Linked DNA regions of Homo sapiens. The protein of the gene in region 1 purifies or fractionates together with the protein of each later gene. This does not show direct contact. Each region holds a gene or a part of one and is shown in the gene's direction. Other genes may lie near its edges. The genes, in order: THUMPD3, METTL5, WDR48, NSUN3, ZC3H14, TRMU and SEC24D.

Region 1 (4,458 bases):
CAAGGATTCTATTGCCATGTGTTGAGGAGTAGGAGCAAGGAGATAGAGCAGGACCAATGTTACAATAAGAACCCACTATTAACCCCCAAGAATCTGTCTTGTGAGGGAGATAAATAGTTATCATACATGCGATAAGTCCCACACCAGCACATGAAAAGATTAGAAGAACAAGAGAAGGGAAGAAACCTACTGACCTGTTTCAGGGTGGGATGCTTCATAAAGAGGATAACAGTTAAGCCACTAACAGTAATGCCTCTAATCTTGAATCTGTTACCTACTAGTTTTGTGTCCCTGGGCAGGTAACTTCATGTTTCCTTGCATCAGCTTACCTTTAAAATGAGAATAATGATAATTATCTAACAGGGTCCTTACTGAGGATTCTGTGAGATAATGCATGGAAAGAGCTTAAGTCCATGCCCAGGAAATACTAAGTGCTCAAAGTAAAGCATTTTTTTTTCCTTTTTTTATTACCTAGTCCCACAGAGCAATTTTTTTATATCAAGATTAGCTTTAAATTCAGAAGGAAAGGAATACTGAATGTCTCATTGCCAGTAACCTTATATTGATGCATGTTTGACTTGAGACATTTTTGAGTCTTTTTAATGTAATACAGGTTTCTGTTGAAAACAACACTGTTGTCAAAAAGTATGCATGAGCGTGTGTGTGTGTGTGTGTGTACACATGTGTACTTTAAGATGTCTGCAAACTAAATTTCATCTGAGAGTGAAATGGGATTTTGGAAGATAGTCAAAGGAGATTTAGTTATAAGGATTTTTTTTCCCCAAGTAATGGAATATACAGTCAACATATCATTATAAATTGATTTTATTTATTTATTTATTTATTTTTGAGACGGAGTCTTGCTCTGTCACCCAGGCTGCATCTTACATGATCTTGGCTCACTGCAATCCCCGCCTTCTGGGTTCAAGCAATTCTCGAGTCTCAGCCTTTGTACTAGCTGGGATTACAGGCACCCACCACCACGCCCAGCTAATTTTTTGTATTTTTAGTGGAGACGGGGTTTCGCCATGTTGGCCAGGCTGGTCTTGAATTCCTGACCTCAAGCGATCCACCCATCTCAGCCTCCCAAAGTGCTGGGATTACAGGCGTGAGTCACCGTGCGCGGCCACAAATTGATTTCTAAAATATGTGTAGATTGGTGTTCCTTCGGGCTAGTGTGGTAGGTCCTCAATCTTAAAGCTTCAGGAATCATCAGTATAGAAGCCTCAGCTTTTGAGTGAGTCTTCACATAGGCTGTTTTCTTTTCTCTAGGCTCTGTGATCCTCTACCTTATGATATAATAGTCGATCCAATGTGTGGAACTGGGGCAATACCAATAGAGGTAATCATATTTCTTTAGCTTTTAGATAAGAGTGATACATCCAGAATATTCTAGACCTAATGGGCAAATTAGACATAATGAAATCTCCATGGTTGGATCAGTGGACCCAAGAGTTTTAAAACAATTAACAATAGAAAGTGGAACTTTTTTGTAAAGAATGTAACTACTTATTTCAAAGAGCCATGTGCCACTGGCCTAGATACATTGTTAGTGACATCTATTCACTAGATTACAGAGGAAGCTGAGAATTACAAACTGCCGATGAGTCCTCTTTGTGTAACAGACAAGCTGGTAGACTTGAATGGGAAAAGATAATTGAAGGCATAAGCATAAACTGGAGGAAGGCAATTTTCTTCTCTGTAATCCACTTAAGTTCCTAGAGGGAATAAGTATAGTTGTAAAAAGGGGAAACTTATGAACATTACTTGGATTTTTTAGGAAGTCTAACAAGCTTAATACCAAATGCTCTTAGTTTTCAAAATTACCATGATATTGAGAGGACTCATAAAAACTGTGTAAAGCAAAGCAAGAAATGGAAAGGCATTTTCTAAATGGAGAATATTTCACAGTAGATTCCCCTTGAATAATCAGTATCATCTATATGTTTTTAAAGAATTTAGAAGAGGGAGCTCCCAGTAAAATCACTGAAGTTTGTGTGAAACATAGTAGTTCTTCCATATAGTATACTGACAGCCAATTTGAATAAACTGCAGGGAGACACAGCAGATTATATGATTGGGTAGAAACTGGACAGATGAGCAAGTCCAAAGCAAGCCCACAAGGGGAGAAATAATCCAAACTGTAATTAGAAAATGGTATCTGTTCTGGGAGTTAAAATCCAAGACTGAAATCATAGAAGTCTACATGTGACTGTGTTCCGTGAAAGCTAGAGAAATTACTGTGGCTTAAAGAGACTGCACAGTAAAAACCCAGTCCTTCTTGTGGCCAAGAAGGATTCTGGGAAGAAAGCAGAGTGTTGTTTTCTAGTATGAAATCATGATATGTGTATGAAATAGCAGGTAAGGTCACCGCATGTCAAGAAATACACAACAGAGCTCCGAGTAAAAATAAAGGCCGAAAAAAATTAAAACATGAAGTTTGAGCCATTTCCATGTAAGAGTAGACATGCAGATGTCAATGTAGAAAAACCTAAGCCGATATATGATCAAAATGAATAAAATTATGAATAAATTGACAAGGTATATATAAAGATTTGTTCACCAAAGTATAAAATACTTGATCTAGAATAATTTTTTTTTTTAATTTAGAAGTGTTATGCTATAAAACCCAATTCTTTCCAATGCTGAAAATCCAAATAGGTTTAGGAAAAAAAAAAAAGAATATTTGGGAATCGGAATCACTGAGAGCCTTCCTCAAACTCTAGGTCCCCTCTACATCCCCACCCACCCAAAATTCTGGGATACTTCAACTTCCCTTTTGTTTGATGTCATCGTAGGATTGTAGACAGGGTATGTTATCACCCTCAAGTGTCTGGGCAAAAGAAAAAGTTATGAAACACTGCACTCATGGATGAGAAGTATGTTACTGTTCACAAAGGAACACAAAGGTGTTTGCTACTCACCCCTAAGCAGAGGCAGACCTTTCCCGGCTTTCGTGTCAGAAACCTTCTGTTAATCTGCATAGAACATTGTTCAGGCCTAGGGTCACGTCACCTCATTCCACAAATGACATGTGACAGCTTGGTATTTATGTTCTGCTGACAGGTTTTTTATTTATAATTACAAAATCCTTCCAGTGATATGGTGGTTACCATTCAAAAGCCTATCATACAAAGGAAATTGCATTTTACTATTATTTTTTTGACCTGGGGTCTTGCTCTGTCAGCCAGGCTGGAGTGCAGTGGTGTAATCTCAGCTCCCTGCAACCTCTGCCTCCCTGTCTTAAGCCATTCTCCCACCTCAGCCTCTCGAGTAGCTGAGACTCAGGTGCACACCATCACACCCAGCTGATTTTTGTGTTTTTGTAGAGATGGGCTTTCACCATGTTCCCAGGCTGGTCTCAAACTCCTGGGCTCAAGAAATCCTCCTGCCTCAGCTTCCCAAAGTGCTGGGATTTCAGGTGTGAGCCACCATGCCCGGCCGGAAATAGCATTTTATTTTGCAATTTTCAAATATATCAGATTATGTAAACTCCCACAACCACAAATCTCAAATATTTTCAAACCGCATTAACTTAGAATTTAGTGTGCCAGACACTGCTGGATGAGGAACTGAATAAAATACTAGACCTGACCTCAGAGAGCTCCCAGGTTAGTTGAGAGGCATAAAGGGGAAGAAATAATTAACCGTGGGACAAGTGCAGTGGCAGAGGTACGTACATACAAAGTGTTTTTGGGAGGGGCACATAAGACTGCTTGGAGAGTTAAGGTTGATGTTGAAAGGGCATGAGGTTTGAGCTGGGTCTTAAGAGATGGGTAGAGGTTCAGCAAGCAGAGAAAGAATAAGAGGGCATTTTCAGCCAGGGAAATAGCACAGTTGACAACATGCAATGTTTTGCCACTCTAGAAAAGCACTGGATTTTCTTTGTTTGTTGACAATTTAATCATATTTTACAGTTTGCTACTTTTGTTTTAACATACACTCTTATCTTTTAGGGGGCCACTGAATGGTCTGACTGTTTCCATATTGCTGGTGATAATAATCCACTGGCTGTGAATAGAGCAGCAAATAACATTGCATCTTTATTGACCAAGAGCCAAATTAAAGAAGGGTAAAAATTTAAAAGATTTCTTAGCATCTTTTAGAGTTAGAGAATCACTTTTTATATTGACTTTATGAATTAAAACTCCCAGTGCATTGTGACGTCATTGTAACCAAAATGAATATACTATGAGACTCCATTTACATTTTTAAAGTTTATTGAAAATAAGTTATATTTTTAAAATATTATTTTAGCGATAATTTCCCCACCATATGCAATTTTTCATTTGTCTTATTCATATGTCTTTTCCCCTACATATTGGAAGAATATTTTATAGACTCATTTTAATTTCACAAAATTTTAAACAGTATATTTTTACATAGGCTTCTTTTTTGCTTTGGGTACAGGGTCTCATTTTGTCACCCAGGCTGGAGTGCAGTGACATGATCATGGCT
Region 2 (4,458 bases), on another chromosome or scaffold:
TTTTTTAAAAACTATTTACTCTTACCATTCTTTCTTAAAAATATTTCAGCATCAAAGAAAGAACCGATATGAGTATATGGCAATGTTTTTAACAAGCTGAGGAAAAACTAAACGTTTTGACTTTTTTTTATTTTACCTCAGAGACTGGGCACAGTTTTGTCATTCTTGGCATTGCTAGCAGAGACTATTTTTTGAGAAACACTGGTGGGTATTAGCTTCCTTTATGGTGCCTCTTACTACATACCAAATCATTACCCCTTATCTTTTACAAAAATAATCTGGAATGGCATTTGGGGAGGACTAAGTAATGCAACACAAGAAATTATTTTAGAAAGAGTCATTTGCACAAATTAGATTTTAGTCACCGGCTTGCTTACTTATTCTTTTTTTTTTTATTTTTTAGCATGTATGCTCTATACAATCCATAACACTTATGATGACATTGAAAATAAAGTCGTTGCAGATCTAGGATGTGGTTGTGGAGTACTTAGCATCGGAACTGCAATGTTAGGAGCAGGGTACGTAATGCAATATATGCTATTTGGGTATTGGGTGGCTTTAATAAGGAGCATCAATGGGATTAACTGAATTATATTTATGAGACTCCACAGAATGAGATATAGGGAGCAAAAATCTGATACTGAATACATTTTGAATGGGCAGAAGATCTAAACAAACTACAAAAATTAAATAAAAATGGTGAAAGCAGCAGTTCCTTTTATACAAACCTGAGTTTCCAACCCCTGCCGGGTTTGGAAATTATGCTGTTACACTTGACTGGGCACAGTGGCTCATGCCTGTAATCCCAACACTTTGGGAGGCCAAGGTGGACAGATTACTTGAGCCCAGGAGTTTGAGACCAGCCTGGGCAACATGGTGAAATCCCATGTCTACAAAAAATACAAAAATTAGCTGGATGTGGTGGTGTGCGCCTGTGGTCCCAGCTACTTGGGAGGCTGAGGTGGGAGGATTGCTTGAGCAGTGCAAGATGGCACCACTACACTCACCTGGGTGGCACAGCAAGATCCTGTCTGAAAAAAGAAAAAAAAAAAGAAGAAAACACTCACTCTTACTTTGCTAATTGGGTTAAAAAGATATATGGTTTAAAAAAAAAACAGCTAATTTTGGTTTTGTTTTTACTTGGGAGCTATAAGTCGCCACTCTTTGTATGTGTTTTGTATTTATAGGTTGTGTGTTGGATTTGACATAGATGAAGACGCATTGGAAATATTTAATAGGAATGCAGAAGAGTTTGAGTTAACAAATATTGACATGGTTCAATGTGATGTGTGCTTATTATCTAACAGAATGTCCAAGTCATTCGATACAGTAATTATGAATCCTCCCTTTGGGACCAAAAATAATAAAGGTTTGTAACAAGAATCGGGTATATTGGTATATTTATAGAAAAGATTTTAAAACCATTTTTAAGGCCAGGCGCAGTGGCTCAGGCGTGTAATGCCAGTGCTTTGCGAGGCTGATACAGGAGGATCATTTGGGGCCAGGAATTGGTAGCCATCCCGGGCAACATAGTTAGACCCTGCCTCTACCCACACACACACACACACACACACAAATTTTAATTTCCCAAGTGTGGTGGTGCACCTATAGTCCTAGCTACTCAGAAGGTTGAGGTGGGAGGATCACCTGAGCTCAGGTATTCGGGGCTGCGATGAGCCATGAATGTGCCACTGCACTCCAGCCTTGGTAACAGCAAGACCCTGTCTAGAAAAAATTAAACAAAAATAAAAACCATTTTTATCACTGTTTGGGCTAAGTGATTTTATCACTCTTCATTAAATAAACCAAGGCTAAGTGATGTTATTACTCTTCATTAAGTAAACCAATCTCTTATTTGTATAGTTCTTATAATTTACATTTCAATTTGTTTAATGCATGGCTAAGAAACTGAGTTTTTCAACTTTCATTTTTACAAATTTGTATTAAGTAAACAAAGATAGTCATGTCATTTATTGTATATCTCCCATTTGCTTTCAGGAATAATTTGCCTAACCCTTATGAATGAATACGAAACATAGAAAGAATTTTATACTTTCAGAATCTGTTTTTTAATGTCTTAACAGACCCAAGGGTTTCTACATGTGCCCATCAGTAACAGTGACTCACCGTGGCTGTTAATTTTGTGTGTACTGTGGGCAAGGAGGTTAGGAAGTCAGTGAGGGTAGGAAAAGACATGCATAGTTTGGCCGGGCGTGGTGGCTCACGCCTATAATCCCAGCACTTTGGAGGCTGAGGTGGGTGGATTACCTGAGGTCGGGAGTTTGAGACCAGCCTGACCAACATGGAGAAACCCCGTCTCTACTAAAAATACAAAATGAGCCAGGCATGGTGGCACATGCCTGTAATCCCAGCCACTAGGGAGGCTGAGGCAGGAGAATCACTTGAATCCGGGAGGCGGAGGTTGCGGTGAGCTGAGATCATGCTATTGCACTCCAGCCTGGGCAACAAGAGCGAAACAAAAAAAAAAAAGACATGCATAGTTTAAAAAGTACCCTGCCCCCACCAAGATGATTCTGAATAGTACTCTATGCATTTCCTTCTCCCCTTTTTGAAGTCATTAATGTTGGAATATAATATTAAAATTTTTACTTTATCCTTATTTAACCAAGACAGTATAATTCTGGTTTTATTCTACCAGCCTTAAAATAATATTTTGATAGTTTATTTGTACCCTTATTGCTAAAAGATTTCAAGGTGGCTATTTTGAAGTTTGGAAGAAAATATTTCTAAATCCTACTAACTTAATCTTCTGTTTTGAGAAGAGGTAAATAGGAGCTTTTTTTCTACTCTTCACAGGGACAGATATGGCTTTTCTAAAGACTGCTTTGGAAATGGCAAGAACAGCAGTATATTCCTTACACAAATCCTCAACTAGAGAAGTAAGTTCAAATCATCTGATATTCTGTGGCATTGATTTTTAAATTCATGACAGTGTTTTTAGGATTTGCTGTGAATACTAGATACCACAGTATCTATTTCTCCTGACCATTTTGACATGTGAAACTTAAATTTTCCACTTAACCAGCTAGCATCTGATTGGCCTTTTTCCAGGCTATAAGACTTATTTCCTCAAAGATTTTTTTCAGACAGGAACTGTTGCCAGAGGAGAGACTATAACTCAGGAGTAGAAAAGTGTGTTGTAACTAGGATTACTGTATGTTTTGGTTTCTCTGAGTAAGTCTTAGTTGATCCCTTTTGTCCCATTGTCCCGGTGTGGCCTGATGTACTTAAGGGAGGCAGTAAGGCCAGGTTTTCAGAACACTTGAGCCTGGAGCTAAACAGATCTGAGTTCAGAAATCACCTATTCTTACTTTTGCAGCATATAACACATGGAGAGGTGTATAAGTTGTAGTCCAGGAAACTGGGGGAAGGGGCAGTACATTTTTTTAGTGTCAGTATAACACAATAGTTAGGAACAGAGATTCTGAAGCCAGACCAGATTCTCTGGGTTCAGATCCAAGTTCTGCTGCCTCCCAGCTGTTTTCTTGGTCAAGGTAATTGAGTTTCATCATCAAGGTAATTGAGCTTTTGTCATCTATACTATCCTCACCTGTACTCTAAGTGTAAGGGACTGAGAGTACCAATTGTACTTCATAAGAATTGTGAGGATTACATGAGTTAATATTTACAAAGCACTTAGATCAGTGTCTGACATGTGTAATTGCTATGTGTTAGCTATTATTATTTAAATCATACATGTATTCAAAGATTTTAAAGTGCTTTTGTAGGAAAAATACTTAATTCATGTAAATACAGTACGTAAGAACCCAGTTGGAAATAATACATTCTAGTTACATGGTAATGTGATAACCTTTTAAAAAGCATAAAATATAACAGCTAAAAAGAACTATACTGCTAATAATAAGTAGTGGTACATGTAGGCAAGCAACAGGACACAACATAGCTAGTAAATAAATCCTCACTCACTATATATGAAAGCAAACACCAGTAAACATTGGTATCCAAACCTGTGTCCCCAAGAACACCCTCAGGTTTGATGATTCACTAGGAAATCTCACAGGACTCAGCATCTAGTCTTATTCATGGCTATGATGTATTACAGTGAAAGGATATAGAGCAAAATCAGCAAGGAGAAAGGTGCATTAGGCAGAGAATGGGGTAAACCAGGGCCAGGCTTCTGGAGTCTTCTGCCAGTAGAATAACACAGGACACAATTAATTTTCCCAGCATGAATTATTGATAACACATGTGAAACATTGCCAACCAGGGAAGCTCATTAGAGACTCAGTGCCCAGGGCTTTTATTAGGGACTGATCATGTAGGCAATTCCCTTTCTGACACATACCCAAATTCTAGACTCCCAGTAGGAAAACAGGTGTTCAGCATAAACAGTGTTAGGCACAGTCAGTCACTATTATTAAGGGAGTAGGGAGTGGGAGGCTTCCCAAAATCTAAGTTCCCAGTCTCCAGACAAGG
Region 3 (4,458 bases), about 30 Mb from region 1:
ATGAGCCACTGCGCCTGGCCCCTGGTTATTTTTATATATGTATAGTCTTCAAAACTTGTGTATTTGTTCTGAAATATTTAATATTTTGAAACATTTTTATAATAATGACTATTGTACATTGTTGTGTTGGACCACACATATTTCACTAAAAATATATCATGGCTTTCCGCCCATGTTTATCAGTCTAGACCTCCATCAACTCTTTCTTATTCTTTAGAAACAGGGCTCTCATGCTGTTGCCCAGGTTGTAGTACAGTGGTGCCATCATAGCTCACTGCAGCCTCAAGCTCCTGGGCTCAAGCAGTCTTCCCACCTCAGCCTCCTAAAGCACAGAGATTACAGGCATGAGCCACCACACCTGGCCTACATCAACATTTTAAGTGATTGAATAGTGTTGTGTTTTACAGATGTGCGTGCTAGAATTTATCCAACTAGGATACTTCTAATTCTTTTGCATTTTAAAGCACACGTCTTTAGGAAATACCGTTGAAGAGGTTGGCCCAGACTGGTTTTAACAGTAATTACTTTCCACCTAGAATGAGAATTCTGACATTCAGGTTATTCTTTCACTCTTGCCTTAACCAGTCAGATAATCTCCCAGAAGTCTGGATATCAAGATTTAGATATGCTGCACAGTCTCAGTTAAAGGAAATGTGAGCTAGGTAAGCAGCCCTGGAACCCCAGAGAAAGAGAGATTGAGAGAGGCTGAAGTTGACATTGAAGCTAGCTTGGTTCCTGGTGGCTTTGGAAAGCCAATTCATGCAATGATACGTATGTCTTTTATATGCCAGACACTATAATGGGGGCACAGGGGTGGAAGGAACAAGGCAGACAAGTCCCTTGCCTTCTTGGAGCTATTATTCTAATGGAGAAGATACACCAAAAAATATAAATGTGGCTGGGCGCGGTGGCTCACACCTGTAATCCCAGCATTTTGGGAGGCCAAGGTGGGTGGATCAGAAGGTCAGGAGTTTAAGACCAGCCTGGCCAAGATGGCGAAACCCTGTCTCTACTAAAAATACAAAAATTAGCTGGGCGCCATAGCAGGCACCTGTAATCTAAGCTACTCGGGAGCCTGAGTTGGGAGAATTGCTTGAACCTGGGCAGCAGAGGTTGCAGTGAGCCAAGATCGCACCACTGCACTCCAGCCTGGGCGATACAGTGAGACTCCGTCTCAAAAAAAAAAAAAAAAAAAAAATACAGAATGTGGTAAGAACTGTTAAATAAGTAATGTAAGATAGATAGGGTCATAACCCTGAGGAGAATGAGATCAGAAAGGCCTTTCCAAGGAGACCTTTCTCCTAAGATCTGAAGAGTAAGGGTGAGTTAGACAAGATGAAAGCTGGAGAAAGAGTATTCCTATAGGGATTCGAGGGGTGGTGAATCTTCATGACACTGGCAACAGTAAATGAGAAGGTACTGGGATGGGAAAGAGCTTGATGTGTTTACGGTAACAGAAAGGAGTTTGGAATGACTGTCATAAAAGAAGCTGGGGGCAGTCAGTTTGAAATGAGTGGGGGATGCAGGGTCAGAACTAAGCATTTGAGGAGTTTGAACTTTAAATTTTGTGAAAAGCCATTGGAAAGTTTCAGCAGAGAAGTGTCATGATTTGATTTTTTAAATGCCTCTTATAAATGATGACTGTATTTCCTGACCTTGGGCTCTGTTAAGATATCCTTGTGTTGAAGTCTCCTTTAAAAAACAAACAAACAAACAAAAGCTGGTTTGAGTAGATCTCAGTTACAGTTAATTGCATCCAAAAGACTGGGTTAAAACAACATCCTTGTAGCTATTTGTGTCTGCAGCCCTGGCCCTTTTTAAAGGACAAATTTCTGGAAATTGAATTTTAAAGAACATTTCAAAGAGTTTAAAACTTTTGTCAGAAAGTGTTTATTTATCCTCAGGGGAAACAAAAATGGCAGTTATTTTAAAAAATTCTTGTATTATAGGTAAAATAATCTCATATTAATTTTGTCTTTGATTATTTATGGGGTTTTTGGCCATTTCTTTTTTAAAAAGTCCCTTTTTGTAACTGTCCCTCTTTCTGTTGGTAAATTTGACTTTTTCTTATTTTATAAGGAATCTTGTTAAGAGTAAACTTTCTTTCATATTTATTTCATTATTCTCTTAGTCTTGCTCGTGTTACTTTTTGACATTCAGAAGGTTTAAGAAAATAATAACATTGTGATAAAATTCACATACCATAAAGTGCACCCTTTCAAAGTGTACAATTCAGTGATTTTTTTGTATATTCGGAAAGTTGTTTATTGGTCACCTAACTCCAGAATGTTTAATTACTCTATGTTCATTAGCAATTACTCCCCGTTTTTCATTTTTCCCTCCTTCAATCTCCTGGCAATTACTAATCTACTTTCTGTGTGGATTTGTCTATCCTAGACATTATATATAAATAGAGTCATAAAATATGTGGCCTTTTGTAAAATATGTGGCTTCTTTCACTTAGCACATTTTCAAGGTTCATCCACGTTATAGCATGTGTCAGTACAGTGTGTGTGTGTGCATATATATATATATATATGCACACACACACATCACATTTTATTTGTTTTGTCCATTGATGGATATTTGGGTTGTTTCCACTTTTGTAACATTATTGTGAATGCCACAATGCTGTGAACATTCTTGTACATAGAAAAGGTTTTGACTTGTATTTGGCCAGATCACCATTGCTCTTTTCCTTCGTAAAGATTACCATCTTTCTTGGCATGTTGGAAGAGTTTTCTCTGGCAAGGGACTATGTAAATATTCACCTGTCTTTTAAAAATTATTTTTATGCTGGCCAGGTGCAGTGGCTCACGCCTGTAATCCCAGCACTTTGGGAGGCTGAGGCGGGTGGACCACTTGAAACCCAGCCTGGCCAACATGGTGAAACCACCATCTCTACTAAAAATGCAAAAATCAGCTGGGCACAGTGGCATATGCCTGTAATCCCAGCTACTCAGGAGGCTGAGGCACGAGAATTGCTTGAACCTGGGAGGTAGAGGATGTAGTAAGCCAAGATCGGGCCACTGCTTTCCAGCCTGGGTGACAGAGCAAGATTCTCTCAAAAAATAAAAACAAAAATTATTTTTATGGTTATTAAATTTCAGTCTTTAATTCATAGAAAAATTCGTTTTTGGTTTAAGATGTGGAGAAAGGGTATAATTGTTCCTAATAGAATCACTATAGGTACTTGAGATAATTTTTTTTAATTATTATACTTCAAGTTCTAGGGTACATGTGCACAACGTGCAGGTTTGTTACATAAGTATACATGTGCCATGTTGGTTTGTTGCACCCATCAACTTGTTATTTACATTAGGTATTTCTCCTAATGCTATCCCTCCCCCAGCCCCCTACCCCCCAACATGCCCCAGTGTGTGATGTTCCCTGCCCTGTGTCCATGTGTTCTCATTGTTCAGCTCCCACTTACGAGTGAGAACATGTGGTGTTTGGTTTTCTGTCCTTGTGATAGTTTGCTGAGAATGATGGTTTCTGGCTTCATCCATGTCCCTGCAAAGGACATGAACTCATCCTTTTTTATGGCTGCATAGTATTCCATGGTGTATATGTGCCACATTTTCTTAATTCAGTCTATCATTGATGGACATTTGGGTTGGTTCCAAGTCTTTGCTATTGTGAATAGTGCTGCAATAAACATACGTGGGCATGTTTCTTTATAGTAGAATGATTTATAATCCTTTGGGTATATACTCAGTAATGGGATGGCCGGGTCAAATGGTATTTCTAGTTGTAGATTCTTGAGGAATCGCCACACTGTCTTCCACAGTGGTTGAACTACTTTACACTCCCACCAACAGTGTAAAAGCATTCCTATTTCTCCACATCCTCTCCAGCATCTGTTGTTTCCTGACTTTTTAATGACTGCCACTCTAACTGGCATGAGATGGTATCTCATTGTGGTTTTGATTTGCATTTCTCTGATGGCCAGTGATGATGAGCATTTTTTCTTGTGTCTGCTGCAGAAATGTCTTCTTTTGAGAAGTGTCTGTTCATATCCTTTGCCCACTTTTTGATGGGGTTGTTTTTGTTGTTGTTGTTGTTGTACATTTGTTTAAGTTCTTTGTAGATTCTGTATATTAGCCCTTTGTCAGATGGGTAGATTGCAAAAATTTTCTCCCATTCTGTAGGTTGCCTGTTCACTCTGATGATAGTTTCTTTTGCTGTGCATAAGCTCTTTAGTTTAATTAGATCTCATTTGTCAATTTTGGCTTTTGTTGCCATTGCTTTTGGTGTTTTAGTCATGAAGTCTTTGCCCATGCCTGTGTCCTGAATTGTATTGCCTAGGTTTTCTTCTAGGGTTTTTATGGTTTTAAGTCTTAACATTTAAGTCTTTAGTCCATCTTGAGTTAATTTTTAACTGTTTATTTCATTACATTAGAAAGTTTTACTTCTGGCTGCCAGCCAGCTTATTGACTTTTTCTTAGGTGTAATTGT
Region 4 (4,458 bases), about 85 Mb from region 1:
AGAACTGAATAATAAAGTATGTAATAAATTTATGAGGTTTTCAGTATACAAAGGTACTCAAATAGAGTATCCAAATAACCAAACACTTATTGCATGTTTACTATATGCCAGACAATACTGACTTACATGATCCTCAGAACAAACCCGTTAAGAGTTTAAGTAATTTGCCCAAGTTCACTCAGCTAATAAGTGGCAGAGCTGAGGCTTGTGCCTGGGTTGTCTGACTCAATAACTCCCACAGCTCATCCTTGTTCTGTACTGTCTCATATCTGGGATGTGATTTAAAAAAAAAAAAGATTTCAAGAGGCTTTTTTTTTTTCTGTAGACTTTGTAGCAGTCTGGCTACTCATATCCTATAATGACTTATTTTTCTACTTAGTGTACTCAGAAAGTCATATACTATTATTTGACCCTGAGCAAAATGAGCAATGAACCTCAAATCCATTTAATTAGCTGTGCCTTCTGCTTCATTTACCCTATTGTGGGGTTTTTGTGGTAATTTAAGTTTTGCATAAACACACACTAAATTTGCCATAGGCAAAATAAAGGTTTCTCAGCTTAGGAAGTAGTCTGAGCATGGAAGATGGTATGGGGAAATAAGAACAGAATGAAATATTTTGTGTTTTAACTGCTTGTTTGCAAGACATAATGTACTTGTAGAGTCTACTTCCAGGGAAAGTCAAGTGCTCTTTTTTTGGCCTATTTAGAAAGTAATTTATTCAATATTTTTAGTTTCCTGTAGTAGTGAGGAAGATTTAGTATTTAGTTTTGCTCTTTTTTAGTAACCTTTCTTGTCTAGTCATCCTCTGAGCAGCCCTTTAAAATTGGAGTTTACCCTGGTTCAATTCTTGCTCTATTTGTTGCCTCCATGTTCTCCTCAGGTAAGCCCATTCATGGCATGACTTTTATCAGTATGCTGTCATCTCAAGCTGTGAGGTTCTTCCTAAGATTTAGTCCCATACTTCTGTTTTTTAGCAACTTCAGTTACTTGGCAAACTCAAAAGTGTATTATTATTTTTCCCTTTCAAACTTATGTTGCCTTTGCTACCTGCATATTTTATCTCAATTAAGTGTATCACCATCAGTCTGGTTTCCTCCTTTCTTCTCTATACCTTCACTACCTTTGTAGTAAAAAATGAACCTTATATAAAAATAGGTCTGGCAACTGCCCTCAGCTCCTGGGAGGCGATCTCTAAGCCCTTGGAATGTGCTTCCTGATAAGTGTGTCTTTGTTTACCTGGGTGTTGAGGTCACACCTGATAATCTAACGATGTGATTTATGTTGAGGCCTGGGGACCACAGGTGTCAACTCAACATCCAGAAGGGCTTGTGACTAAAAGCTGTATGGACAGTCAATCATATATACGTGACCAAGCCCCAATAAAAAGTGGATACCAAGGCTTTGGTGAGTGTCCCTGGTTGGCAATACTCTTGTGCATACTGTCATACATTACTGCCAGCAAAAGTTGACCTCGTTGATGATTCCGTTGGAGAGGACAGCTGGAAGCTTCATGCTTTGAATTGTTGTGAATTCTGCACTATGAGTCTCTTCCTGTGATTGTTTTTAATCTGTATGCTTTCATTATAATAAACTGTGACTATAACTGTGATTATAACAGCTTTCAGTGAGTTCGGTTGTGTCCCAGTGAATAATCAAACCTGAGAGTCATCCTTGGAATCCCTGAACTTGTAATTGGTGTCAGAAGTGAGAGTTGTCTTTGAGACTCAACTACCCTGCCCCCTTTTAATTTGGATCTTTTTAAAAAAATTCTCTACTGCTGCCATTCACTTAGACCTTCCCAATCTCTTATCTGGCATATTGCAACAGCCATGTTTAGTACTTACCTGTTTGCTTATTTTAGCAACCACTTTTATGGCACTATGTACCAGTCAATGTTGTAATCACTTTATGAATAATAACAATCCTATGTACAACCCTCTGAAATAGTTATTTCCATTTATATATAGGAAAGCTGAGGCACACAGAGGTTAAGTAACTTGCCCAAGTATACACATCTCACACTTTAACTTGCCCAAGTATACACATCTAACACTTTGAAGAGCCTTGAGAGTTTGTTGTACCCACTCTGTCATGCTGTTTCTCGGTGCTACCAAATTCCATTGTGTCACACCTTGAGTACAAACCTTTGCTCCCCAGAAGTCTGCAGTATTATGTTTGGACTAAAAATCTTATCTTTCTGGGCAGGCTCCTTCATGCCTTTGGGACTGGCTATGCTGTTCTTCTGCTAGGAATGCCTTTTTCCCTTCTCCCTCTGTGCAGTAGTGTGGGTTCAAATCCCACCTCTGCATCTTGTAGCATATGACCTAGGTGAGTTAATATCTCTGTGCTCCATTGTCCTCGTCTGTAAAATGGGGAAAAAATAGTATCTATTTCATATAATCATTTGGGAAGATAAAATGAATTTGTGTATATACAATGTGAATGGAATGTTGTTTGACGTATAGTAAGGACTTCATATGCATTAGCATTATTTTTGTTACTATGATTAACCACTTCATCAAGCCTTCTGTATGTCCCTTGGCAAAATTAGTTTTGCCCTTCGTGTATCCATTGCATTTTGTTGATAGAGCTATTGTGATTCTTTCAAGGTTTTATCGTCATAATTTACTAACTTGCTTATCTTTTTCCTGACAAGGGAGGGTTTTGAAGAACCAATACCTTGAGACTTGGGCAAGTCTTCTGCTTATTCCCAGTTTTGTCAGTGTTTGTGTACTAGGCATTGTGCTAAGCACTGAGAATACAAAAATGGACTGTATATATCCTGCCCTCAAATACATGTATGATTAATTGGATAATTAATGGATACTTAATAAATGTATGATTAATATAAGCATTAATTAGAAATATTTATTAACTGTGGAAATTTTACATGTACTTTATAGAAAGCAAAACAAACAGACCATATAAGTCTGAACTGTCTGCAACATCTTTTTTTTTTTGGACACTCTCCTCACTGACCGAGAGTTCACATACAGAGAGGAAAAAAAAATACACACACACACACACACACACATACACACACACAACCTGATAATATTACCATAATCTGTGAAGGATGTAGACTGAGGTGGTTAAGAAAGAGAGAAATGAACCAGTATCTAGATTTCTATATTGTCCTATATGTTGGCTTTACACACATTTTCAGCCTTAATCTGTGCAAATCTCTGTGAAGAAGTAACTTTTAGACACTTTAAAGTCAGAGGTTAGAACAATTGATAGGTATCTTGTAGTTGTGGCAAATTCAGTCCTGTGACTTAAAAGTCCACGCCTTTTCCTATACCATCTGTGCTGCTGTGAAGGGTCCAGAGTTGCATCCTTCCAAATGTATGCTCAGATCCCGTAGTATGAAGGACTCTTATGTTCAGGATTTTTAGCCTTTTGATGTTCCACCAGAAACGCAAAGGATTTCCTATCTGAGGTACAGTGAATAACAAATCTGGACATAAATTGCCCTTCTGTGAGATACAAGGAAGATCCATTGCCAAAATAGAATAGGAAGCCATCAGCTCTTCGTTAGCATCTCTGAGGAGTAAAAATAAAATGACTCAAAAACATACTTTGGTGCATTTCCATAAATTGATTTGTTTTTCATTTCTAACTTTTAAAAGAGTTGAATGAGCACCCTCTAGTGGATAATAATAGCACTAAATCAAGGAATTTCTCTTTTTTAGCTATGGAAATTTAAATAGGTTCTGTAATCTACAGGGTTATATTAATTGTGTTTAACAATTTCTAGATTAAATGATATTTTTCATCTTCGTCACTAGGACGGAAGGTAGGGTGGAGAGTAGAGTAGTAGGAAAAAAGAATAAAGTCACAGAAAAGTTGAATGAAAATTATACTATCAAATAATAAACATTATCGAAATGATACATTATACAGTTTTGCAAAATTTTAACTTAACTAGCTTTTAATTTTTTAATGCTTTAATTTTGTTAAAATAGTAAGTAGTTCAGAGAGCCTTGAATCAGAACTCCAATTTTATTCATTTACTCCAGGATTTAGGCCCCAGGCACTTAGCCAAGGAGAAAAATAAGTCAAGGCTCCCATATAAATGAGTTAGGGAAATGGGTAAGCAGGCAGGGTGACACACAGTGTGATATATTAGTTTAGCTTCATTAACTGTTTCTCAAAATTCAGTTATTCTTGTGTACCATCTGTCTAGTTTTACTTAATTTTTTTTTGGTCAGTTTTAATATTTTTCTTTTGTTTCTTAGGAATTTTTCTTTTGTTTCTTAGGAATTTATTTTTCTTTTGTTTCTTAGGAATTTAAGCTTATTTTATATCATTATCAGTAAATAGATGTGCCTAGCCTATAGTTGACAGACGGTGTATTTTTAGAGAATGAATGAATGTTGACAAGAAGATAATATACGATGGCTCACACCTGTAATTCCAGCACTTTGGGAGGCCAAGGCAGGAGATTTGCTTGAGGG
Region 5 (4,458 bases), on another chromosome or scaffold:
TTTTATTTATTTATTTATTTTCTGGTTGATGGGAGGTCTCACTATGTTGCCTAGGCCGGTCTCAAACTCCTGGGCTTATGGAATCCTTGTGCCTTGGCCTCCCAGAATGTTGGGATTACAGACATGAACCGCCACACCAGGCCACTTGATTTCTTACTAATTATAGACCAGAATCGAGAGTCACTGAGACATAGAAGAACCTTTATTATATGTGTCAGCCTTCCTTGGTATGTACTGCTGAGCCCACCACACACACCCTTCCAGCCATTCCACATTCTAACCTTTCTCAGATGCCTTCGGCCTTGTGAAAGCCCCTTTCCTTCTACGTGCGTTTTCCTCTGCCTGAAGTGCTGTGTTCGTTTCTCCGAGTCTCTCTCCTTGTTTATTCCTGCTTGTTCCTTTACTGCTGACTTCAGATGTTCCTCCTTGCTAAGCTTTTCGTTGGTTCTTGGCTGGAGTGGGCTGTTCTGTATTCTCAGCACCTTGTTCACATCCCTTTTGGGTCATGCTATTCTGAAATTGTATATGTGTCTGTTTTTCTTTTTTTCTTTGTGTATCTAGCTCAGTTCTCTTAGTTGTTCAGTAAATACTCAGTGAATGAACATAAATGAATACCCTGTAAATTTTGGTCTCTAAGCTTTAAAAGAAGTGTATTAACTTCAGTCCGTTGATGGCGTATTGATAGGTCAGCCATTCTGGGTTGTAGGTCTTGGCATATTTTATAAAATAGTAGATGATGTGAGCTTATGGTTATTTGCATTAAAGGCCAGTGTTTTTCTTGATACATATGTTTAAGTGTCCATTCACCTTTCAGTTACCTTTTAAAGTAGTCCTCGGTTTATAACCAACTGGAAATTATACCACTTGAATTCTTTTTATCAGGACATGATTCTAAGTGGTACTGTGCGAAGTGAACAAACCAGATTTTGGAAAAGTGGTTCAGCAGTCTGTGTATTCTAATTATAGGGAGCATTAGGACTCAAATTCTCCAGGTTTTTAGAAAAGATTTTTGTACTTTAAGGGTATATTGTTAATATCTGTTGAGATGCCTCACCTGAGAACCTTTCTCTGCTGTGGTTAGGGAGTGTTAATCAGAATCACTTGTGCCGTGCCCTACGCGAGAAGGACTCCTTGAGTTCTTTGAAAACATGTTTGGAATAGAATTATAGCCCTGTTTTCCTGAGTGGAACCAGTTGTGATTTTCCTTTGAAATAATTTGAATATATAAAAGATTGACATTCTTCTCACATATATAATGTTGGGAATGTAAGGTATATTCAAAAGTAAACATTTGTGGCCAATTTTTTTGGCTCAGATTACTATGACATGGAATCCATGGTCCATGCAGACACAAGATCATTTATTCTGAAGAAGCCAAAGCTGTCTGAGGAAGTAGTAGTGGCACCAAACCAAGAGTCGGGGATGAAGACTGCAGATTCCCTTCGGGTACTTTCAGGACACCTTATGCAGACACGGTAGATGGTTTCTTTTTCTTGTGTAGTTAATTTGTGTGATTAGATAGTAAAGGTTAACCATTCGTTTGCAGCTTCCCTCCTCCCCGCCCTAACCGCTAGCGTAGAGTGCTTTCATTGATTCAGTAGCTAGCCCATGAATAGTTAGCCAAATTCAGTTTTCAAGAATTCCAGTTCATCTTTCTTGTTCAGAAATCCATTAACCTACAAATTACAACTCAGTGTATGATTTAACTCTATTAAAGATTCTTTTCTTTATGCAAATTCAGGAAATGCAAGTTTAAAAGCCAGCTGACCATAATCAGGTCAGCTCTAAAGAGAGTTGGCAGATCAGGTTTGGGTGATTTTTCCCTTAGAAAATTGACTGTTTCTATAAAAGAAGAAACATACAGATAATTAGCATAAATGCTGCTGGCCCTTGTGTTCTGAGCATTGATGCTAATTTTTTGGTTTGTTTCCATGTTGACCCTATGAAGATCGAATGGGTGATGGGGTCAGGCTTGAGGGGAGATTGTCCTTAGTAAGTACAGGCTGGAGGGTCACTGGTGATGCCACTGTGACTGTTCATGGCCATCGTGTGTTAGCAGAGAACCCACCAGTGCTGCACCTGGTAGCCCTACCTAGTCTTTTTTTATTGAACCAAACGCAAAGCCAAGGGAGTGATAGTTCTGCTGAAGAGCACTTTAGGGGGCTCAGCGTTTTGTGTTTGTTTCCCTAATTCTATGGTATTTTTTATCTGTCTGGCAGAGATCTTGTACAACCAGATAAACCTGCAAGTCCCAAGTTTATAGTGACGCTGGATGGTGTCCCCAGCCCCCCAGGATACATGTCAGATCAAGAGGAGGACATGTGCTTTGAAGGAATGAAACCCGTAAACCAAACTGCAGCCTCAAACAAGGGACTCAGAGGTCTCCTCCACCCACAGCAGTTGCACTTGCTGAGCAGGCAGCTTGAGGACCCAAATGGTAGCTTTTCTAACGGTGTGTTGAGAGCTCAGATTTTCAGGGTGCTGTCATTGTGAAGGGAATCTTTGACTTGTTTCTCTACCTTGAATGAATATTGGTTAAAGGCCTTGCTTTTATTTATATTCAGTAATGGCCTTTTTTCTTCTTTCAGACAAACCCACCAAGTACATTTCAGACTCTTTTTCCTGTGTCTTTTTCATAGGTGGGCTGTTACTCCAGTTTGAAAACGGAGTTCAGCCATGGAACCTGAGAGACCTCTTCCGCTTATGCTGGCTAAAGGATGAACCACCATTCTTGTTGCCTTCTTTACCTTTGTATTTTCTTCAGAAACTGTACTGCCACTTTGCCCTTTTATCAGCAATAGTCTCTTGCAATTAACTTGAGAGAAAAATTTAGATTTGATGCTATTTCTACCTCAGTGAAATTTCTTTGAAAGGAGTTTCTCACCTAATCTATCAAGATCTTGGAACTGTTTAAATTAATGTTGAAGAGTAATATTTAGCAGAACTCAGATGAACTCATTTCAGATAGCACCATAGTTTTTGGCAGGTGACAGTTTCTTATCACCGTTTCTTTCACTGGGTATCAGTGGTAGCTGCAACGCCACTGATCATTTCCATTCATGATAGAGAATGGTAATTATGTTCCTTATATCTTCTAAAATATTTAGAAGCACCTCTTCATTGGCAGGAGGGATAATTACTCAATCTTAAAAGCGTACAGATTCAAAGGAAAAACAGTAATGGATTTTGAAACATTTCCTTGAGTAATCCTCTTCTTGGAAGAGATATGAAAATGTATTGAATACCTTTCTCGATCATTAAAAATAGAATAGACTTCAGAGGGAAATCATATGTTAGTGGAGCAATAACACTTAGCTTTATTTTAATTGGTTGCGTTTCCTACTGTGAATCAATGACGTAGTGTCGTGGTTTTGATTAGTGGAGGGAGTTGAAAATCTGACCCTATCAACAGGAAGAAAAACTTAAAAAATAGTAAAAGCTGCAGTAGGCAGTCCCGATTTATTGACTCTGTATGTTTTGTCTAAAGAGAAGACTCCAGTGTTTTCACTACTCTTGATTTTCAATTTGGTACCTTAATTTTTTGGTCTATTAGGATCTGGTTTCATTTAAATGTAGGTGTCCATATGAGGCTTTATGGGGTATACATGTAGCAGCAGTGACACCATAAATAATATGTTAGTAAAAATTCTTGCCAGTGCTGTGGCCATTGTGCTGACAGCCATGATGAGTGGTGAGCCTCCTTTCCCATTGCTTTGACTGGGGACTCAGTGTTTCCCTGCTGCTCAAGGATGAAGCTTTGTAAGATTAGCATAGGGGTGTGGCTGGAGAGACTCCTGCAGAACAGTTCTCAGGAGTCTCTAGTCTCTGCACCACTTCCCCTGTGAGCAGGGAGTTTGAAACTGCAATTGCTTCTGGTTGGTTTTATGTTGGGTTGTTTCAAGGATGCTACCAACAACAACATCTGTTTTAACCTGCTGTCTTTTCACTCACTGTCATATGGCAGCACAGATTTTATAGCTTGCTTTCTTTGTTTTTTTTTTTTTTGAGATAGAGTCTCTCTGTCCCCCAGGCTGGAGTGCAATGGAGCCATCTCAGCTCACTGCAACTTCTGCCTTCCAGGTTGAAAGCCATTCTTCTGCCTCAGTCTCCCAAGTAGCTGGGATTACAGGCATGCACCATCACACCTGGCTAATTTTGTAGTTTAAGTAGAGACGGGGTTTTACCATGTTGGTCAGGCTAATCTCCAACTCCTGACCTCAAGTGATCCACCAACCTCGGCCTCCCAAAGTTCTGGGATTACAGGTGTGAGCCACCGTGCCTGGCCTATAGCTTTCAATAAAAGGTGAATTTGCCTCTTAAAATTTGAACAGAAAGTTTTAATAGTTTACAAAGTCGGTGTCAGCCAGTGAAGACTAGGGGCATGACCTTCGTATGACTTAATGTTTTTAAAAGAAAGATAAAGTTTCTTTGTAAGGTATTATTGTAATAATCACATTT
Region 6 (3,522 bases), on another chromosome or scaffold:
CTGGACGGGTCTTGGTGCCTGCTTAGAACCCAAAGCCCTTAACTTCATGCTCCTCGTCCTGCTTCAGGGGCGGGGCTTGGCACAATCCCAGGAGGTGCCAGGTCTCAATGGCCCGAGGCCATGGGTGGGTGACAGGGAGCAGGGGCCTCAGAACCAACCTAGGGTATCTGGGGCCCCCCAGACCAGGGCCAGTCCTGGGGCACCTGTGGGAAGCCAGCAGCTACCAGTCCCTCCTTTCTCCTCAGCCATTTGGTGTGTGGAGGAATTCCTGGGGTGGCCTTGAGAGAAGAGCCCGTGGTGTGGCTGGCCCCTGTCCCTGCGAATAGAAAAACCAGTCCTCGAGGGGGGCCGTGCTGCTGCCCCACAGGTGGTTGCAGGTAGAGGGCCTGAGTCAGACTTGAACCTGCAGCATTCACTGTCATGGGCTCGGATCTCACCCCTGCCTCTTGCCCACTCTGACATGGTACTTCCTTCCTGGGCCTTAGTCTCCTCATCTGTAAAATGGGGATTCAAAGGCCCGGCGGGTGATGAGATGAATTTCTGTGGGTAGAACACTTCGAGCGGTGCCAGCACCGTTACCTGTGTGTGTGTGTGCTGGTAGGACAGTTGTTCCCAGGGACCACACTGAGGCCGGCCTTGGGGCCAGGTGCCCCTCGGCGTCCCCACCTTCACATTCCATTCTGCAGGCCCCCCGGACAGACCACCCAGCCCTGTACAGGGACCTGCTGAGGACCAGCCGCGTGCACTGGATTGCGGAGGAGCCTCCCGCAGCACTGGTCCGGGACAAGATGATGGAGTGCCACTTCCGATTCCGCCACCAGATGGCACTAGGTGACTGACGGGAGGGCTCCTGAGGACGGGCCCCTTGAAGCTGAGCTTCCTGAGGCCAGATTTGGGCCAGGGATGGGAGACCCTGGGGTAGGAAAGTCCCGTTGTGGAGATCATTTGGAGATTACCTAAAGTATTTAGAACTCCCGTGTCCTGTGCCTGCCCTGAGCGAGGCCTGGGGGTGCTGGGAGCAGATGCAGGCAGGCCCCGGCGTGTTGGGCTGAAGCAAGTGTGTACACTGCCCCGCAGTGTCCTGCTGCGTCCAGGGCCCAGGCTGGTGCCCTGCCCTTCCCCTCTAAGCAGGGGTTTTTGACCCCGTGGGCTGGTGCTCCTTTCTCCCTGGGGGCCTGAGGTCGACCAGGAAAGGCCTGTGCCCCCTCCAAGGGCCCCTCTCTTCTACCCAGTGCCCTGTGTGCTGACCCTCAATCAAGATGGCACCGTGTGGGTGACAGCTGTGCAGGCTGTGCGTGCCCTTGCCACAGGACAGGTGCGTGGGGTGTGGGGGTGAGCCCGGGGAGGACTGTACTGCTCTGCACCCTGCCAGGGCACCCGGGTTACAGAGGAAGGGGCTGAGGCCCAGGAGTAGGGTGTGCTCGGGTCACACAGCTGGTGAGGGCAGAGTGCCACCAGCCCTGCCCTGGGGGCTCCTCCCACAGTGACAACTGTGAGAGGATTTCCACTCTGGTGTCACCAACCAGCCAGTTCCTGCTCGGGCCCTGAGAGGCTCAGCTGCTGCCCGGGCCCCAGAAGCGAGGACAGAAAATGGAAGGGGCATGAGGACAGTGCTCAAAGAGGCAGAGGGTCGGGGCCCCTGTGGGCCGAGTGTGCAGGAGCTCCCAGGGTGGGCGCCTGGTGGGTGTAGGCCTGAGGAATCTCCAGGGGCAGGTGGTGGGAGGGAACCTGGGGTGAGGGAAGCGGAAGCATCCTCTGGCTGCCACCATGCTCCTTCCTGTCACAGCTCCACATTCCCAAGGGGTGCAGAGACCTGCCAGTCCCTTGGAGTCCCAGGAGAGGCCCCTGTGACTGTCCCACTCAGGGAGAGGTACCCTGAAGACCCTCCCTAGTGAAGCCACTGGGTGCCCCAGGCCTCTCCTCTCCTGTTCAGCAGCAGCAGCAGCAGCAAAACCCTGCTCCCCTGGGAGCTCAGTGCCTGGTGCTCCGAGCACAGGCCAGGCCCCATAGGGGAGCACTCTGCCCCTGCCTGCCCTCGGCTGGCTCCCTGTGGCACCCCTGATGCCAGGGTCTCTCCCCTACAGTTTGCTGTGTTCTACAAGGGGGACGAGTGCCTGGGCAGCGGGAAGATCCTGCGGCTGGGGCCGTCTGCCTACACGCTCCAGAAGGGCCAGCGCAGAGCTGGGATGGCCACTGAGAGCCCCAGTGACAGCCCAGAAGATGGTCCAGGCCTGAGTCCCTTGCTCTGACAGAGATGGATCTGCTAGAAGGAACCTGGAGAGCAGGACCCATGGCTGGGCGGCTGGTGAGCAGTCCAGGTGCCCAAGGGCCAGCTTGCTGCTGCCCAAAGCAGAGGAAGCCGGGCTGGCTGAGGGTCCGAAAAGCCTGCAGGGGCCCGGCGAGCCCCAGGAAGAGCCTCAGCTCCAGGCTGGGGCTCTGGCTGCTGGAGCATCTGCTGGCTGGTGGGGTGGCCCGAGTTCCCCTTCACCGCCCCCAGGGAGGGTTTCCCACCTCAGAGTACACCGAGGGGACCTGCAGAGGGGGCTGTCGGGACAGCGTGGAATAAACATTATTTCAAGGACACATAGTCTGATCGCTGCTTCCACTGGGGCCCAGGGGGCTCCACATCACTGACTCCCTGGCGTGGAAAGGCAGGTGGACTGCAGACGCAGCCATGGCAACCTGCGTACCTCTCCCTGAGGTCCCAGCTGCTCCATCCTCTGCCCCCGTATCCCTGCTCCTGGACTCCAGAGTAGGTGCCTGCGATGCTGACCTGTGTCCTTGGCTCTCTTCCTCTTGCTGGGCTTGAGTCCTTCGTAGCGTGTTGTTGGTGCCTCAAGACAGGTTCCTGCGGGGACCAGAGGTGCATTCCCCTTCTCTGGGTGGGAAGGTTCCAGAGGCAGCCAGGTGGTGCGCAGAGGGCCTTGCCCAGATGCCCTGAGTTCTTGCTGGTGCGTCAGGGTGGGGGCTGCCATGGGGCCCACTGTCCATCCTGACCCCTCCTCCCATCTCCCCACTGGGTGTCCCCTGACCTGGGGCACCCTTCCTTCTAGCCTAGGCCCCCACGCAGCAGGGAGTGTCCTGAGGGTGAGGAGTGGGCCAGAACCCCGCAGGCCAGGTGAGGAAACGGGGCCTAAGGTGGAGCCGTGGCCCTTGCTGGGCTGGGGTGGGGAGGTGGGGGGTGTGGGGTCAGTGCTGCCCTGGCCAGGGGCAAGCCCCAGCTCTACCAGGCAGGCAGAGCGCTGGCCAGTGGGACCAGACAGGCCCCTGGGGATCCTCGGCCCAGCTGGGCATGGAGGCCGAGCTAAAGCGCCGCGTTTGTTCTGCCAGCTCAGCCCAGCACGGAGCCTCCCTGGGCTCAGGGGTTCCCTGATTTATGGCTGTGGTCGGGCCTCCAGCCTGGGAACTGAGGGTGGGAGAGCCCTTGTGGTGCCTACTGCTCTGCCCTAGGTGAACCCTCCCAGGTCACAGAAACATGAGTAGGTGGGAGGTGGGGCAGCCAGGCAGAAGGTGGTGTGGGCA
Region 7 (4,458 bases), on another chromosome or scaffold:
TGAAAGAGGAGATTTGAAAGCATTGAATGATCATTATATAATGAAATGGCTTGAGATTACAGGATCATTTGGAAAAGGCTCTCATAGCAGAACTCTACATCACTAGTTTGGTTATTGCATGCAATACAAGTTTGGTTTTTAAATATAGACTAAAACAAACACTTCCTGTTTTATTTTTACTGTGAGTCTTGTTCTTGCTGTTAATTAGTGGTGTAAGGCTATTGTAAACATTGAATAAAAAAAGAATTAAATTTATAAATGAATTAAATTCACATATCCTTATCTAGGATTGGCCCTAGATAAATCTGTACATCATGTGAGGATAATTCTTTGTACAATTCTTTGTACAAATGGACCATGTATAAATCAATGAGTAACTCTCAGGGCTCACTGGAACTAGCTTAGATATCTGGGATCCAGGCTGTGCTAGGTAGAATGTATATAGTGCAGAATCAGCAAGGGGTGAGGACTCCCTTTAGTGAGGCTTGATGTTAGCAGCCACACACAGTGTGCTGCAGAAGATGCTCTGAGATTGTGAATTTCCTGTGGAAAGTCAGTCTTATGATTTATTCTTCCCGAGATTTTAAAGATGTCCAGATGAAGCATCCCTCTTCTTGTTCAGGACCATCCTCTCCAGAATGTTTGTAATCTTGCCTTACTGGATCCTGTAGAAACCATTAACCCCTTCAGTTTCTAACTGGTGGTTCATTTCTCCTCAGCATTTATTTATAATGATAATTATAAATTATTCCTTTTTATGATGTGTCGAAATCTGGCCCTAAAAGCTTTTCCTGTATTGTCTTATTTAATCCTCATACAATGCTATGCAGTAAGTTATTTTTGCAGCTAGGAAAACTGAATGTCTGGTGTCATGTGACTTGTCTAAGGTCACAGACAGCAAGTAGTAGCACCAGGATTCATACCCAGATCTCTCAAGAAGGCAAAAAACAAATTGCATACACACCTAAGTATAACACTCTATATTATTCACCCTTCCCTCTTCACAGGCATCTTCTTGAGAAAGTACTCACTATGCTTGGTAATCTCCACCTTTACCTCTCCTTCCCTCCATGGCTCAGCATAGTTTACACTCCATAGTTTGCCACCCCATCCACACTTTCACTTCCCTCACCAGGACTATCAGTGTCCTATTTCTCAATGCAGTAGACATTGTGCTGTCTGTCCTCTTTTGTATTTGACTCTGTTTACCACTCTCATTTTTACAAAACTCTTTTCTCCTTTGGTTTCAATGACACTATCCTTTTGTTGTTGTCTTTTGAGGTGGAGTCTCCCTCTGTCGACCAGGTTGGGGTGCAGTTTTGCGATCTCAGCTCACTGCAACCTCCGCCTCCTGGGTTCTAGTGATTCTCCTGCCTCAGCCTCCTGGGTTCTAGTGATTCTCCTGCCTCAGCCTCCTGAGTAGCTGGGATTACAGGCGCCCGCCACCATGCCTGGGTAATTTTTGTATTTTTAGTAGAGACGGGGTTTCACAATGTTGGCCAGGTTGGTCTCGAACTCCTGACCTCACGTGATCCACCCGCCTCCACCTCCCAAGGTGCTGGAATTATAGGTGTGAGCCATTGTGCCCATTTTTTTGGGTTGCTTTCTGGACATTTCTTTTGAAGGAATTCTTCTACATGACTCTTAAGTGTTGCTGTTTCTCCCTCCATGTTCCATCTTCACTACTGTTATCCCACTCTGTAGATTTTTCCCTAAGCTGGATCATTCACAGAAAGTGCTTGTCTCTCAGATCTATTTCTCCAGCCCAGATGCCTCCCCTAAGCTCTAGACCAGGGGTATCCAGTCTTTTGGCTTTCCTGGGCCACACTGGGAGAAGAATTGTCATGGGCCACACATAAAATACACTAACAATAGCTGATGAGCTAAAAAAAAAAAAAATCAAAAAAATCTCATAATGGATTAAAAAAGTTTTCAAATTTGTGTTGGGCCATATTCAAAGCTGTCCTGGGCTGCGTGTGGGCCGTGGGTTGGAAAAGCTTGCTCTAGACCCATATTTCCAGTTGCCCACCTTTGTTGAGGCACGTCACAGTCACCATGCCCAAAACAATTCCATATTCATCATGGAAGCCTATGTTTTCTGGCATTTCAAATCTCACTCATTAGCATCATTTATTTCGTGATCCATACCAGAAACTTTATTAAAAAAACAAAAAAACAAAACTTGGTGGGGTGTGGTGGCTCACACCTGTAATCCTAACACTTTGGGAGACCAAGACAAGTGGATCACTTGAGGCCCGGAGTTTGAGACCAGCCTGGCCAACATGGTGAATCCCGGTCTCTACTAAAAAAATAGAAGATAAAAATTAGCTGGGCATGGTGGCACATGCTTGTAATCTCAGCTATTTGGGAGGCTAAGGCATGAGAATCGCTTGAACCAGGGAGATGGAGGTTGCAGTGAGCCAAGATCACGCCACTGCACTCCAGCCTGGGGAACAGAGTGAGACTCTCTCAAACAAACAAGCAAAAAAACCTCTCCCTCCTTTTTATCTCCTCCAATGTAATCGGTCTCCCAAATCTTTTTGGAGTGATTGTAAACAGCTTTCCTACCTGCTTTCTCCTTTCCATTCTCCTGTCACTCTTTTTGTTCAATCCATCCATCTCTCACATGGATTACTAAAATGATCTTGTAACTATTATCCCTCTCTCCAATACTGTCTTTTTCCAAACCATCAACTCCTGAGCCAGAGGGATTTTTTTATACCATGCAAATCTAATTTGAATTCTTTTGTATTCTAATACTTTTTCAGGCCTCTATACTATTTGCCATACTGTGTTATAATAGATGTTCCTATAGTAGATGTTCCTGGAGCAGAGAAGGCACTCATGGCTGTTTTTAAAAAAAAAAATTTTAATTGGCAAATAAAAAATTATATATACATATATATATAATGTACAACATATTGTTTTGAAATATGTATACACTGTGGAATGGTTAAATTGAGCTAATTATAAATGTTTATTCAATGAAGTGGATGACAAACTGTAGCACTCATTAGCAAAACACTCTGGTATTTACCAATATTTAATTAAATTAAATTAATTAATTTATTTGAGACAGGGTTTTGCTCTGTTGCCTAGCTTCCAAGTAGCTGGTAGAGATGGGATCTCCCTATGTTTCCCAGGCTGGTCTTGAACTCCTCAGCTCAAGTGATCCTCTCGCCTTGGCCTCGCAAAGTGCTGAGATTATAGGCGTTAGCCTCGGCACCTGGCCTTACCAGTGTTTTTAAAAGCTGTCTTTGTTGGATTAAATCCTTCATGCTTTAGTTTAAACTGCTTTCTCCTTACTTAATGGCTATTAAATATCAGGTGAATAACCAGGCTATTATACTCTCTGCAAATATATCTTTCTATGCATATTGTGGTGTTTTGGTTTAATTATTTAAGACTTTCACTAAATTACTCCAGCTCTTATATCTCTGATTATATTCTGCTGAATAACCTTAGATACCTTAATCTTCAGTCTTCCTGTGTCTTCTTGTCTAGCCTTTTAGTGACGCTTTTATTGGTCTCCTGACAGACACAAGCAAACTTATTGTGGTTCTTTGAAGTATCTATTCCACTGTAGATCTGGCCAGTGCTAACTCTTGCTTTGTGTTGCTCACATTATCGTATCTCCATTTATGCTTATTCATTGTGTTTTTGTAAAGCTAGTGCTGTATACTAACACTTTTTTTTTTTTGAGACGGAGTTTCGCTCTTATTACCCAGGCTGGAGTGCAATGGCACGATCTCGGCTCACTGCAACCTCCGCCTCCCAGGTTCAAGCGATTTTCCTGCCTCAGCCTCCTGAGTAGCTGAGATTACAGGCATGCGCCACCACACCCGGCTAATTTTGTATTTTTAGTAGAGACGGGGTTTCTCTGTGTTGGTCAGGCTGGTCTCAAACTCCCGACCTCAGGTAATCCACCCGCCTCGGCCTCTCAAAGTGCTGGGATTATAGGCATGAGCCACCGCGCCTGGCCCCTAACACTTTTTTTTAAAGAGACAAGGTCTTGCTCTGTTACTCAGGCTGGATTGCAGTGACGAAATTATAGCTCACTGCAGCCTTGAACTCCTGGGCTCAAATGATCCTCCTGCCCCAGCTTCCCAAGTGGCCAGGATTATAGGTGTGCCCACCATGCCCAGCTAATTTTAAAATTTTTTGTAGAGATGGGGTCTCACTATGTTGCCCAGTTCTGTCTCGATCTCCTGGCCTCAAGCCATCCTCCTGCCTTGGCCTCCCAAAGTGCTGAAATTACAAACATGAGCCACTGCACCCAGCCACAAATTTAACAATTTATTTGATGAACAAAATAATTGTGGTAATATGACACTTAATAAAATAAGCCTAATCTCAGTCCTCATAGTATTTACTTAGCTAGTGAGAAATGCACTAAAGAAATTAACAATGACAATTTTGTGGGGAAGTACTATTGTAAAGGAAGTAGAGGGTGGTATG

The links.
Region 2: the proteins of THUMPD3 (region 1) and METTL5 fractionate together in Homo sapiens (co-fractionation; one large-scale study listed by BioGRID). This does not show direct contact.
Region 3: the proteins of THUMPD3 (region 1) and WDR48 purify together in Homo sapiens (co-immunoprecipitation; one large-scale study listed by IntAct). This does not show direct contact.
Region 4: the proteins of THUMPD3 (region 1) and NSUN3 purify together in Homo sapiens (co-immunoprecipitation; 3 studies listed by BioGRID and IntAct, with this or other methods). This does not show direct contact.
Region 5: the proteins of THUMPD3 (region 1) and ZC3H14 fractionate together in Homo sapiens (co-fractionation; one large-scale study listed by BioGRID). This does not show direct contact.
Region 6: the proteins of THUMPD3 (region 1) and TRMU purify together in Homo sapiens (affinity purification with mass spectrometry; 2 studies listed by BioGRID and IntAct, with this or other methods). This does not show direct contact.
Region 7: the proteins of THUMPD3 (region 1) and SEC24D fractionate together in Homo sapiens (co-fractionation; one large-scale study listed by BioGRID). This does not show direct contact.

Annotation. Positions count from the first base shown.
Region 1 is NC_000003.12:9,376,547-9,381,004, forward strand, and holds part of THUMPD3 (tRNA (guanine(6)-N(2))-methyltransferase THUMP3), read left to right. Parts: intron 1-1,272; coding exon 1,273-1,342; intron 1,343-3,956; coding exon 3,957-4,072; intron 4,073-4,458. UniProt on the Homo sapiens protein: Catalytic subunit of the THUMPD3-TRM112 methyltransferase complex, that specifically mediates the S-adenosyl-L-methionine-dependent N(2)-methylation of guanosine nucleotide at position 6 (m2G6) in tRNAs.
Region 2 is NC_000002.12:169,818,003-169,822,460, reverse strand, and holds part of METTL5 (rRNA N(6)-adenosine-methyltransferase METTL5), read left to right. Parts: intron 1-403; coding exon 404-518; intron 519-1,187; coding exon 1,188-1,369; intron 1,370-2,817; coding exon 2,818-2,900; intron 2,901-4,458. UniProt on the Homo sapiens protein: Catalytic subunit of a heterodimer with TRMT112, which specifically methylates the 6th position of adenine in position 1832 of 18S rRNA.
Region 3 is NC_000003.12:39,057,899-39,062,356, forward strand, and holds part of WDR48 (WD repeat-containing protein 48), read left to right. Parts: intron 1-4,458. UniProt on the Homo sapiens protein: Regulator of deubiquitinating complexes, which acts as a strong activator of USP1, USP12 and USP46. Enhances the USP1-mediated deubiquitination of FANCD2; USP1 being almost inactive by itself.
Region 4 is NC_000003.12:94,065,774-94,070,231, forward strand, and holds part of NSUN3 (tRNA (cytosine(34)-C(5))-methyltransferase, mitochondrial), read left to right. Parts: intron 1-4,458. UniProt on the Homo sapiens protein: Mitochondrial tRNA methyltransferase that mediates methylation of cytosine to 5-methylcytosine (m5C) at position 34 of mt-tRNA(Met). mt-tRNA(Met) methylation at cytosine(34) takes place at the wobble position of the anticodon and initiates the formation of 5-formylcytosine (f(5)c) at this position. mt-tRNA(Met) containing the f(5)c modification at the wobble position enables recognition of the AUA codon in addition to the AUG codon, expanding codon recognition in mitochondrial translation.
Region 5 is NC_000014.9:88,600,609-88,605,066, forward strand, and holds part of ZC3H14 (zinc finger CCCH domain-containing protein 14), read left to right. Parts: intron 1-1,315; coding exon 1,316-1,475; intron 1,476-2,219; coding exon 2,220-2,452; intron 2,453-4,458. UniProt on the Homo sapiens protein: RNA-binding protein involved in the biogenesis of circular RNAs (circRNAs), which are produced by back-splicing circularization of pre-mRNAs.
Region 6 is NC_000022.11:46,354,758-46,358,279, forward strand, and holds the end of TRMU (mitochondrial tRNA-specific 2-thiouridylase 1), read left to right. Parts: intron 1-686; coding exon 687-831; intron 832-1,232; coding exon 1,233-1,315; intron 1,316-2,084; coding exon 2,085-2,249; 3' UTR 2,250-2,583; downstream 2,584-3,522. UniProt on the Homo sapiens protein: Catalyzes the 2-thiolation of uridine at the wobble position (U34) of mitochondrial tRNA(Lys), tRNA(Glu) and tRNA(Gln).
Region 7 is NC_000004.12:118,829,055-118,833,512, reverse strand, and holds part of SEC24D (protein transport protein Sec24D), read left to right. Parts: intron 1-4,458. UniProt on the Homo sapiens protein: Component of the coat protein complex II (COPII) which promotes the formation of transport vesicles from the endoplasmic reticulum (ER).